Linked DNA regions of Homo sapiens: regions 1 and 3 are each linked to region 2. The links come from fine-mapping of genetic effects on gene expression. A gene starts in region 2. Each other region holds a variant in brackets. All regions are shown on one strand. Distances are from middle to middle. Region 1 overlaps SLC2A12 (solute carrier family 2 member 12). Region 2 holds the start of SLC2A12 (solute carrier family 2 member 12). Region 3 overlaps SLC2A12 (solute carrier family 2 member 12).

Region 1 (4,243 bases), 60 kb after region 2:
TTACCTATGGTCTCTATTCCTCTGCTTCCTCTCTTAAAGTTGGTGTGCCCTGGGGCTTAGTCCCCTGACCACTTCTCTATCACCCTCACCAGCCAGTTGATCTCAGTCAATGTTAGTTTCTTTTTTGTTTGTTTGTTTGAGATGGAGTCTCGCTCTGTCGCCCAGGTTGGAGTGCCATCTCGGCTCAATGCAAGCTCTGCCTCCCAGGTTCACGCCATTCTCCTGCCTCAGCCTCCCGAGTAGCTGGGACTACAGGTGCCCGCCACCACGCCTGGCTAATTTTTTTGTATTTTTAGTAGAGACGGGGTTTCACCATGTTAGCCAGGATGGTCTCGATCTCCTGACCTCGTGATCCACCCACCTCGGCCTCCTAAAGTGCTGGGATTACAGGCGTGAGCCACCGCGTCCAGCCAGTTTTACAGTTTTTATCTCATTGATATGCCAGGGTCTGAAATTTATGTCTCTAGCTATCTCTCTAGAATTCAAGGCTTGTTTATTCAACTGCTTACTCTACATGTCTTTCCAAATGTCTAACAGATACCTAATACCTCACATGCCCTAAATTGAACCTGTGATGTTCTCAAACCTATTCTACTCACTGCCTTACCCACCTCAGTTGATGTCAATGTTATCCGACTACTTTGGCCACAAACTTTGGAGTCTTTCCTCTTTCTCACATACTCCACATTCAGTCTATCAGGAAGTTGTGTTGGCTCTTACTTCAAAATATATCCAGAGCCTGAACACCTTCACGGCTGCCCTGGTCTGAGTCACCATGATCTCCATCCTGAATTACTGCAATACCCACTTACTGGTCCCCATTTCTGCCTTTGTCCCCTCCCATCAGTTCTCTACACAGTGGCCAGAATGACCCCTTAAAATGCAATCAAGGTATTCTTTTGCTCCAATCCTCCAGTGGCTCTCCAGCAAGAGCAGAAGCCTTCCAATGCCCTTCCAGCCCTGCACAGCCTGCTAATCTCCCCTTCTTCTCTCACAGCCACACAGGCCAGAGGCTGCATCCCAGACACATCAAGCATGCTCAAGGCTCCAGATCGTGGCACTTGTTTTCTCTGCCTCGAATTCTCTTATCCTAGATATCCACCTGTCTTGCTGCTTCACCTCCAACAGACTTTTCCTGTCCCTCTATTTCAAATCCCAATTGTGTAGCCAACTCTGCACCCACTTTCCAATCCTTCAGTTTTAACCAAAGCAGAAACACTACATTTTACTTGGTCTACTGTCTATCTCTTCCTGCTATATTTAAATTCCATGAAGCCAGGGAATTTTGTTCACTGTTGTTTCCCAACACTTGGAACAATTCCTTGGCATATAATCGAAGCTCGGCATTGAATAGATGAAAAAACATGAATGAAATGGATACAAGAATAAGGTAATGAAGTAGTCAGGATGACACTGCAAGTTTTAGCTGAGAAACTGGACAGATGGTGAGATGCAGAAGCCTGAGAGAGGACTAGGTTTCAGGGCTCAGGACAGAATAGAGCTCGGATTTGGAGATATTGTGAGATGTCCATTAGACATCAAATAGACACATTAGTAGTAGGCAGTTGGATACGTAAGTCTGAAATTTGGAGACTCTAGGGGTTAGAGTCAAATGTGGGTGGCCATCAGCTTATAAGTGGTATTTAAGTCCTGAAGCCAGATAAGCTTATCTGGTCAGAGAACAGAGAGAGAAGGGACTAGGCCCAGTTTTGTGCCAAACTTAGAGACCGAGCAAAGAAGAGAGTGTTAAAAGGGACTGAAAAGAAGCCAACAGTGAGGCTGGAGGAAAGCCAGAAGTGTTGTAGGAAGGTGGGACTGGAGAGGCCAAGCACAAAGACAGATGTAAGCACAGGCTCAGCGGAATGAGAGGACAGAAGCTGACTGATGTGGTTGGAGGACAAAATGGAAGTGAAGTGAAGAAGCAACAGTCCACTCCTT[A/G]CATCAATTTTGCTGTGAAGGGGAACAGAAAAGCAGGATGGTCATGCCCTAGACTCATTTCCAATCACTGCTTCATTCACAAGCATTCCACTCACCCTCTAACCACTCATCTCTCCAGCCCACTTCCTCAAGTACTGGCACTTCAACAAGTCTTCAGCCCCACGACGACCTGGAGGCCCATGCTCTCCCTTCCTTCCTTACCCTGCTTCCTACTTTCCATGGCCCACCAAGGCCACTTCTTCGCATTTCCCCTTCTCCCTTTACTCTCTTCTCTCTCCCTCCATCACTCAGGCAAACCTTAACTCTGACCAAGTCAACTCTTAGTTTATTTTAACCCTGCATTCAAGGAGCTAAACCTGGCTGAATCAAACACACAACTATGCTGATAAGCCTTGTTTTCACCTTATGAACATACATCTCAAGTAGATCTTGAGGAATACCCTGCAATATACCACATTTCCCTGGTGAGTTGACGTTCCTACTTTCGAAGATGATTACTTCACACCAATACTTTTCCCAAGCCTCCAGGACCCCCTCCCACTTCTTCACTCTAATTATTTTGCTTTTTAGTTCACTGAGAAAATAAATTGAGACCACCTTGTCCTCCTGCCACAAGATCTTCTAACCTACCTACATCTATGCCCACACACACTGCCTTGTTGCAAAGGCCAATGCTTCCATTTGTACACTGACTGCATCAATTTCCCCCTCCTATGGGATTATCATCACGCACACACGCACAAAGCTGCAGTATTTCCCATCCTGAAAAAATACCTTCCTCAGATTTCCCTCCAGATACCAACCGTTTCCCTGCCCCAACTTCTCAGGTCTCTGGGATTCTCTGCAGGAGTTCCCTCCCTAACTTCATTCCATTTTCTGATCATTGTCACTGCTTTAGAGAGATGCCACCTGTATAATACAGTCTGTCCTCTCCCACCCAACTAAACCCTTTTTTCTCCTTCCCCGTTTATTTCTCATTTGCACTTTTACTACTTCAAGTTATAAGCTCGTCTCCCCTCTAAAATCTAAGTAAGCTCCTTGAAAACAGAAGTCTTTATCTACTCAACCCATACTACCTACATATTGTGGCCACTCAAATCATTGGTTAAATTACAGAAAAAGGTATTTGAAAAGGGAGGTTCAAAGGCAGCTCTTCATTTTTAGTAAAGGTAAAATACAATAGCATCTTTTTATGCTGATGGGAAGAATCCTGTAGAAAAATTTGTTAATGCAGGAGTAAGGGATAACGTAGAAGATAGAAGAGATATAAATATAGGCACATTGCTGGAGTTTGAGAAATGGAAAAAAATAAGGTCTGGGATGAAACCTCCACTGGTTCTCTGTATGTAATACTATCCTTGGAATCCTTCCCCACAGAGCTGACTGCTGGGATTGTATTCTGAGAAGACACCGTTACCCCTTGCATGAGATTGACCAAAGTCTGTGGCATACTGAATTTCATGATGCAGCAGGATTCCTAATAAAAATGTGTATTTATTTTTGCATAGCTAAAACATTAAAGCCCCAGGGTGGTTTAAAAAATAATAGCCTACACATTTTTTTCATGTAAACTAAGAATGACATTTTCATTAGTGCCTCTTTCTCTTTCAGGAACTATGTGAAAAACAACATTTGTTTTATGAGTCATCACCAAGAAGAATTAGTGCCAAAACAGCCTCAAAAAAGAAAACCCCAGGAGCAGCTCTTGGAGTGTAACAAGCTGTGTGGTAGGGGCCAATCCAGGCAGCTTTCTCCAGAGACCTAATGGCCTCAACACCTTCTGAACGTGGATAGTGCCAGAACACTTAGGAGGGTGTCTTTGGACCAATGCATAGTTGCGACTCCTGTGCTCTCTTTTCAGTGTCATGGAACTGGTTTTGAAGAGACACTCTGAAATGATAAAGACAGCCTTTAATCCCCCTCCTCCCCAGAAGGAACCTCAAAAGGTAGATGAGGTACAAGGTCCTAAGTGATCTCTTTTTCTGAGCAGGATATCAGGTTAAAAAAAAAAAGTTACTGGCTGGTTTAATACTTTCTACCTTCTTCACAGAGCAGCCTTTGAATAGACTATGTCCTAGTGAAGACATCAACCTCCGCCTTAAGCTATGTATGTATGGAGGCCAGTCGCAGCTTTATTATGCAGACACACAAGTGGTCTGGACATGAGGGTACAGTTTCTGCCTACCAAGACACTACTTGCACTGGATCTTACGCAAAAAAGAACCAGAACACACAGTGTGGACAACTGCCCATATATTCTATCTAGATTAGGAGAGGGTCCTGGCTAGGATTTTAGTGGTAATTC
Region 2 (4,245 bases):
GTGCAAAAGGCTGGGAAGGAGAAGTACAGGGTTCGTAACAGAATTGAGGCAGAGTTTCCCCCCTCTAGTCTGGGTGAAAAAAATTTTCTCCCCTAAACTTTTCTCTGAGTTAAGAGATTGAGGTAAGTACAAACAGAGCTTGAGATAGCCAGTGGCCCCGGTCAGGTCACCAGCAGAATAAAGAACAGAATTAGGAGCACCAGGAGGTGATGTTGTCAGTTGCATTGCTGAGCATTCTTTTTGACTCCTGGTTGGCTTACTATGCCTGTGGATCTCCTGTATGGTTTGGCTACACAAAACAGAGTGAGAACTGTTGAACTGCTTTTAACCATAGTAAAGTATTCTGGAATTAGTTTTGTCTTCTGTCTAGTCAAGCACTATAGCAAACACTCTAACACTCCCATGGGGCCAAGAAGCTGCTAGAAACACAGGTTGTGGGATCACGAAACAAAGCAATGATACAACTAACCCATTGCAAGAACATTTTCCCCCTAATGAGGTCATTGGTTCTGAGCAGAAAGAAGTTAGAAGCCAAGAGAATATAGAGAACTTATGGGAAACATATGTGTCTCACAGATAGAAACTGGGACTCCTATATAATTATAATGCACCCTGGGAACAAATAAAATGAGTTGTTTCAAACCATGGTTGCGTTACACATTCTTTAGTGGGGACACTGATGTGTGGGATTCTGAACTTCTCACCCTCTTAATCATAAGGGGCCTGGATTATGCCTGGAGGACTTCCATTTTCTAGCACTATCAGCAGACATACAACGGGTACATAATAAAGACTAGTTGAATTATTATAGGTTTGTTTCCATTTGCTACCTGTTTCCCTGAAAGATAAGAAAAATATAGAATTATTTAATGACAAGCAAAGGAAATGTACAAATAAGTGAATTTAGAACTTTGAAGTGATTCAGTTAAAATGTTGAAAAGAAGTAACAAAAATTTAGCTTCTGCTTATACAAGCACAAATTTGTTTTTCTGTCCAGAGAAATGCCTATGACTAAAAGCCATATTTCACGGCATCTTCTTAAAGTCGAGTAGGTCTGAAACCATAGGAAGCCAAGAAAATTAGAGAAGGACAAGGCTGGGAAGTTAGAATATAGGAGAGTTACAGCTTTAGACCTCCTGGATTCATAATCTCAGCTCTACCACTGATTAGCTGTGAGACTGTAGCCAAGTTACCCAACCTCCATTTCCTCTTCTATAATGTTGGTACCTGCCTCAAAGTCATCATCTGCGTTATTGCGCTTAGCACAATTTCTGGCACATAAGTGCTCCACACATGTTAGTTTTTATTCCAAATGATTTTTAAGATGATCTCAATTTCCTCTATAAGGCTTTTTTTTTTAATAAACATGATTTGTTGAATGAATAACTGAAGGTAAAATGTCATAACCCTGTAAGACTTTTTTATAAATATGTTCACAAATCAGAAAAAGATCCTCTCTCATGACCTGATTTTGTTTGAGATTACATGTCCACCACACGCACACAATGGGCCACTTAGTCTGGCCTCTCTGAGTGAGGAGTATCCTCCTCCTACCTACGCAAACATGAAACCTAACAGAGGATTCAGTGTTAATTTGTCTCTTAAAGACAATTCTGCATTAAGAAATGGATTACTTTGCTATAACCTCAGCATATAAAAAGTCTAAAGAATCTGTGCATTCTGAGTTTGTGTATTTTTGGTCTCAGGCTGTGATTTATCTGAAAGGCCTTGGAGAGAAAGATATAGGCCTTTACCTAGACCAAAATCAGGTTGAAACAATAAAGGTATTTTATGCTTTGTGTAAGCTGGTAAATACCATGACTTTTGGAATAACAGTCTTGCTGAAAAATTGACACACTTTTCCTTCTGGTATGTCTTTGCATAAATTGTTCCTCTTTCTGCAAGATTAACTGATACCATCTGTGAGTATTCTATCCCCACTCTCAGCTTGCATTTAAATCTGCATGTTTCCTTTCTCTGCCTCTTTTCAAAGGTGCTAGAATACAAGAGCTACCCTTAGCTAATGGCCAAACACTCCGTCTGAGTTCCCTTTCTTTTAACCCCTTGCTTCCAACTCTGCATCTAAAGGCAAAAACAATCCTCTGACTCACGGCCCTCCCCCTGCCTGTGATAGGCTGCTTGGAATAGCAACAGCCTGTGTCACCGAAAAGGGCAAAGCCTTCGGAAATAGAAACAAAGTTGGTCACAAATCACATTAGCTTTGCCCGAAGTTTTTCCCCACACTCTTCTTTAGCATGCTATTATGGGGAAAGTGACCACTCCTGGGAGCGGGGGTGGTCGGGGCGGTTTGGTGGCGGGGAAGCGGCTGTAACTTCTACGTGACCATGGTACCTGTTGAAAACACCGAGGGCCCCAGTCTGCTGAACCAGAAGGGGACAGCCGTGGAGACGGAGGGCAGCGGCAGCCGGCATCCTCCCTGGGCGAGAGGTAAAGTGAGCCTGCAGTGCTCGGGTGACCGCAGAGAAGCAAGCTGTACTCATCTCCCGAGTGTACTGTCTCTTGAGTCCCGTGTGTGTGTGTGTGTGTGTGTGTGTGTGTGTGTGTGTGTGTGTGTATGCGCGCGCGCGCATGTGGGCGCGCTGGATGAGTGGAGAGAAGGGGACAGGGTCTGGTGGGACGTGGGACAGCTCGGAGCTGTAATGTTGTGAAGATCGAAGTCTTGGTGGAACCTTATGTGCCAAGAAAATACAGGTTACACATCCACCACTGGTATGATGGGTCCCCTTGATTGTGTTTACATAATACAATGTATGGATGTTTTTCATATTGGAACGGTCCACTGGCAAAGATAGTCTCATTTGTAAACACACACAAGCACACGCTTGCTTACACTTTTTCATTTATTGTCACAAATGGACACTGTGTAACCAGTTGACATTATAACCACTGTTTTAAAAATCAGTATTTTAAACAGGCTTCATAAAATTATTAGTTATGTAATCAATGAGAACACAAACTTCCTTTTTAAATTCCCAGCACGTTTGTGATGAATTTGAGCGTTATTCAGAGCCTGAAACGCTTGCTTTGCTGGGTTCTGCCTTCTTTAAAACTGGCCTTGCAAACTGAGGTTTGTTTGCTATGATGACCTTCTGAAGGTGAAATTTGGAAAAGTTTTAATTCATTTAATGATCTTTGATAAATCAGAGGCTGGTCTTCACTTCCACATTTACAATTCCCACAAATACATTGTACGCTTTTTGCTGCCTCTTCCTGCTCATTTAGTTTGTGCTGCAAGGAATAGAAAGTAATTGTAATATGAAATGACAACAAACACAAAAAATCTTCTCTTTCCTACTACTTTCCTCAGCTGTGTATTCTTAATCAGATATTACATTCCCAAGCAGCATATAGAAATTTCATGCAAAATCCAATACACTAAATGATACAAAAGACATCTGCCTTTCTCTTGGGAATGGTCCTAATACTGACGTTTGCCTTGTGGGTTTGTCTGATCTTGGGGAATCGAACCTGTGACCCCTAACATCGAGGCATGAAGCGGCCCTCTTCAGGAGTGGAGAAGCCCTCCATCTTCCATGTCCTGATCTCTTCTCTTGCTTTCACACTTCTCGTCAAGAATGAGGCCGGGCGTGGTGGCTCATGCCTGTAATCTCAGCACTTTGGGAGGCCAAGGTGGGCAGATCACTTGAGGCCAGGAGTTCAAGACAAGCCTGGCCAACAGAGCGGAAACCCTATCTCTACTAAAAATACAGAAAAATAAAAAAATTAGCTGAGCATAGTGGCACATGCCTGTAATCTCAGCTACTCAGGAGGCTGAGGTACAAGAATCACTTGGAGGTTACAGTGAGCTGAGATCATGACACTGCACTCCAGCCTGGGTGACAGAGTGAAACTCTGTCTAACATAATAATAATAATAATAATAAAAGAATATCTGGGGTCATCTTTCAATATGGCCTGTCCTCTCCTATGCAGAAGTACCCTTTTCCCTAAGCGCTTGCTACTCATTGGCCCACAAGTTCCCTAAGAGCAGGCAAGGGAAACTTATATTTGGAGATAAAGGGAAAGAGTTGCAAAGTTCTTTTCTCCAAATTCCTGGGAACATGAGCTGCAGTCTAGACTGCAGAGCAAGCTGAGGTGGTGATGTTAACAAAAGGGCTCACTAAATACAGTCAGTGATAATGTCACAAAGAAGATGAAAAGAAACTGCCTAGGAAGAGCCTTTGTAGTAACCATTAAAAATGGACTGTTTATTTTGATATGGCTT
Region 3 (4,245 bases), 33 kb after region 2:
GCTGGGATTACAGGCATGAGCCATTCAATAGAAAACAAGTAAAAGAAATTCTGGGAGATTGAGGGCACACAGATTTGGGAATAGAACCCTAGGTACCTGAAAGCTAATCCATGTTCTTTCTGCTTCTATATCACCTATGTTTGAGGCAAAACCTCTGGTTTTTCAAGACCCTCCATTATCTCACCCAGCTCTATCAGGGTGTCTGCAGGACCATAGGGCCACGATTTACTTGTAGTCTTAAGTCTTGTGCTCCAGGGCCACCATAGACTCCACATAACGGACAAAGTGAATGATGCTCCCTGGGGTTGTGCAATGAGGCAATACTTTATCAGTGTGGGTTTATTCCCCACTGCTCCACACCCAAGTCAATACACACAAAGCACTTGTTGTGGCCCCTTCCTTCCGCCTCTGCTCTATCCAGATCCTTCCTCTTTTTGAAGTTAAATGAAAGCTTTATCTCCTCTTTGAATCCACTCCATTTTTTAGAGGTCTTTATTTGTATGAACTACTAGTGTGTTTCTAGAGTAATTCAGTTCTGGGCTACCAAACGTATAAATTTAAAATCAGAAAACCTCTGTTCTAATCCCAGCTCTTCTACTTACTGGTGGTGTGACCTTTACGTGATTTTTCTTCTCTGAGCTATTTCTAATCTATGTAATGGGCATAGTAATATCTGTCCTATCTCCTAGAGTACAGGTGCACATCAGATGATCTAATGTATATGAGAGTGCTTTAGATGCTGTAAAGTATGAGAGTATGATATAATGTAAGTTACAATGTGAGAACACATCTTAGTCCTTAGCAATAGGGTATTACTTCTGTATGTTTATTTTGGTTTATTAACCAGAATGTAGTTATAGACTGTAAGCATTTTGAAGGAAGAAACATCTCATATTTTTTCTTTCTGTCCCTGTAAGTGAGCACAGCATGAGTCTGTTTAAAAATCATGCTGGTTTATTTACCTTTGTGTTTTTAAGCAGGAAGAAGGAAAAGGACTTAAAAATACGATGCAGACATAGGAAAAATGTCAAATTGGGCTTCTTTACTTGTGTAAAGATCTGGCTAGTGGGCAGGCTAGGAACTAAGTAAGCTAGAAATACTAGGCTGCCAAAAAAACTCCTGTTCCTGCCAGACACCATCACGAGGCTTTTTGCAGAACAATCCATCACTTGGGCATGATTTTTAAAAAATATCTTTCTGATTTTGGCTGTAAGAAAAGATGCAGGAGATTTAGTAGTGTTAAGAAACAATTAGCGGGAGATATTTAGGCATTTCTTTGTTAAGGCATACATAGTTATTCGAGAATTTTGGACACAATATCTAAAAGTTGTTCTGGATGCTTTTTGGATCCTCTGCTTTTTGCTACAACATGGAGAAGAGGGGCTTCGGAGAACTGCTTAGACCAGAAGCAATGCCAACGAGTTGGAGAATCTCAGGGTTGAAGGAAGTTTGGATCTAGGAAAAGGAAATACTTCTTACATCTCATGGACTGTCCAATTTACAACTGCAGGTGCAAGGACTGGCCTGGGTAATCACACGTGAGGCTTGGAGTCATGCTGTCAGAGGCAGGAATCCAAATCACATCTAAAGAGAACAGTCATTTCACATTCTTATCTTGAGGCTATGGATTCTCCTCGTGTTTTTAAAAGAGACCCAAATAATTCTCCATTTTTTTTCTTGCTAAGAGTCAATCCTTTACATCCATATTCACATTTTAGTTTCTTTTTCTTTTCTAAAGAAAATATCCTGTAGTAATTTCATTTCAATCCCCAATTGTATTCTAGAGCATTGGTATAAACTATATAAACTAGTTGGAGTTTAAAGAAGATTTTTATTAGGAACAAGCTTTTCATACCAGATCTTGAATGCATTACCAAACTTATTAAGCTGATGTGATTAGTGCTCAGGTATTTAGAGAGTTTATTGCTTGTAATACAAATAAATCCTTTGTGTAAATAGAGGTATGAAGGAAAAGTACTTGCTGTTCTAAAGTAACATTGAAAGCAAGATTAAACCATCCTTATTAGACCTTCTTAAATATGGATTGGCTTAGAACAA[C/T]ATTCCTTAATTGTGTTAGATCACAGCATGATTTTCTTCTGCCAGGAAAGTGTTTCTATTCTTAGGTTAAAGTGGATGCCCCACGTCATTTTACTTTCTGGTCCCCTGTTCCCCTAACTGTAAAATAATTGGGTTGCCCCAGAATTTAGAATCCAGGAGGGGTACTCATGTAATCTTACATACTTTTTTTTTTTTTTTTTTGAGATGGAATCTCACTCTGTTGCCCAGGCTGGAGTGCAGTGGCTCGATCTCGGCTCACTGCAATCTCCGCCTCCTGAGTCCAAGCGATTCTCCTGCCTCAGCCTCCTGAGTAGCTGGGATTACAGTTGTGCACTACCACCAGGCCTGGTTAATTTTTGTAGTTTTAGTAGAGACGGGGTTTTACCATATTGGCCAGGCTGGTCTTGAACACCTGACCTCAAGTGATCCACCTGCCTTGGCCTCCCAAAGTGCTGGAATTATAGGCATGAGCCATTGCGCCCAACATCTTATGTACTTCTAGAATGCATTTAAAATATTATTCTAAGAAGGGGTCCATAGGCTTCACCAGCCTACCGAAGAGGTTCATGGCCCCAGAGAGGCTAAGAGCCCCTCCCTTCCATTTTTCTGTAGCTAATATTAAAACCCGTATGTCAAACAAAATCAGGATATATACTTATTAAACACTCTGTTGTCCATAACTTATCTTTCACTTCAAATATGTTCAAAATCTTACCTCGACTCCCCACTGTTTCTGGGGTGCTCTTGATCATCACTTCAGCTCCCTTTAATAACAGAATTTTTCTAACATGGTTCAAGCTTTCACAACGTAGAATCACAGATTCTTGACATTGTGAAGACACAGAACAACGTGAAGATTTTTATATTCATGCTTCACAAGTAAAGTCAAGATGAGCCAAAACCCAAGGCATAATGTTATTATTTCATGAGTTCATCTGAGGTGACACTTGTGTAGAAACCCAGCCCTCCTTAAAATAGCCACTGAAACTCCGGAAAATATATGTGACTGTTTTTTTTATAATAATTATTAGGGCTTTTTATCCAAAAATTAATATGCCCATAAATTAATTAATTAACCTCTTCTTTCATCTCATGATGAATAAGTTTTCACTTTGAGCAGATGGAAGGCATGTTTCCCAAGGTCACATACGAAGTTAGGTGATAAAGCTGCGACTGTCATCCTTCAGCTACCTTTGTATTCACATATTCAAGTGACAGATGACACCAAATAACCTCCCCTGATCTCTTCTACCAACTCTGAGGACTCAAATGGGCAGAAATTCCAGCCAGAAAACATCTTGGAGTGAGGAAGAGGAGAAGATAGAGAAGTGGTAGGGATTCATTGATTCACTCACACATCCAGCACATGTGTCTTGCTCACCCACAACATGGCAGGCACAGTACCAGGTGCTGGAGATCCACATCTTATTTTCACGAACCAGTGATAGGGACAGACGAAAAGAAAAAAAAAATGAACACACCTATGATACAGTTTCAGGAGACAGAAGTGTTAAAATTTAGGTGGAGGTAAGAGTGATAAAGAAAAATAAAAGAGGGTAAGTGAAAGGGCATGCTTGGAGGAGGGTTATTTCCGATATGATAGTGACAGAAGACATTTCTGAGGTGGTAACATTTGGGCCAACGTTTGTATGAAGAAGGCAGTGTGACAATCTTGGAGGAGGGGGTCTTGAAGCAGGGCTAATGGCAGGTCAGATGGCTTTGAGGACATGAGCTTGAAGGGTGAGGAGAGCTGCAAGAAAGCCATTGTGTTTGAATGTGGACCAGGCTTTGGTATTGGACTGCCTGGCCTTGAATCCAGCACCACCATGCAGGACTTAGGGCAAGTCCATTGATCTCTCTAGCTTTCAGTTTTATCTAGAAAACAGGGCAATTGTATCCACTTGATGGCCTGTCGAGTTAAATGAAGGAATCTGTATAAAGTGCCCCTAGTTCAGTGCATGGTTTGTGGCATGGACTTAGTACACTTAGTCATTAGTGTTATTAAATGTCTGGCTGTGGTCTAGACATGAGGTGAACAGTTCTGATAATGCCAGCACTGACTTCAACAGGCATTTTGCTTAAGTCACTCTGGGACACATAGGATGTGCTTAAAGCCCTTTATTGATTTACGATGCTGTGGTCTTCTTTCCCTCCCTCTACACATAAATCCAGCTGAGTCAGGACCAC

Evidence for each region. PIP is the estimated chance that this variant, and not a neighbour inherited with it, causes the effect.
Region 1: its variant is fine-mapped to the expression of SLC2A12 in putamen (GTEx, PIP 0.95).
Region 3: its variant is fine-mapped to the expression of SLC2A12 in esophagus muscle (GTEx, PIP above 0.99). The same link has a PIP of 0.9 or more in aorta.

What each region holds. Positions count from the first base shown.
Region 1 is chr6:133,990,615-133,994,857 of GRCh38, reverse strand. SLC2A12 (solute carrier family 2 member 12) reads left to right here. Exons shown (of 5, transcript NM_145176.3): 5 at 3,550-4,243. The coding sequence ends at 3,703. Among named protein-coding and RNA genes, the nearest start is that of TBPL1, 40 kb to the right of the region's middle. The variant A/G (reference allele first, on the strand shown) is at 1,939.
Region 2 is chr6:134,050,581-134,054,825 of GRCh38, reverse strand. It overlaps SLC2A12 (solute carrier family 2 member 12), which reads left to right and starts at 2,202. Exons shown (of 5, transcript NM_145176.3): 1 at 2,202-2,448. The coding sequence starts at 2,346.
Region 3 is chr6:134,018,039-134,022,283 of GRCh38, reverse strand. The region is part of intron 2 of SLC2A12 (solute carrier family 2 member 12); the gene reads left to right. Among named protein-coding and RNA genes, the nearest start is that of SLC2A12, 32 kb to the left of the region's middle. The variant C/T (reference allele first, on the strand shown) is at 2,059.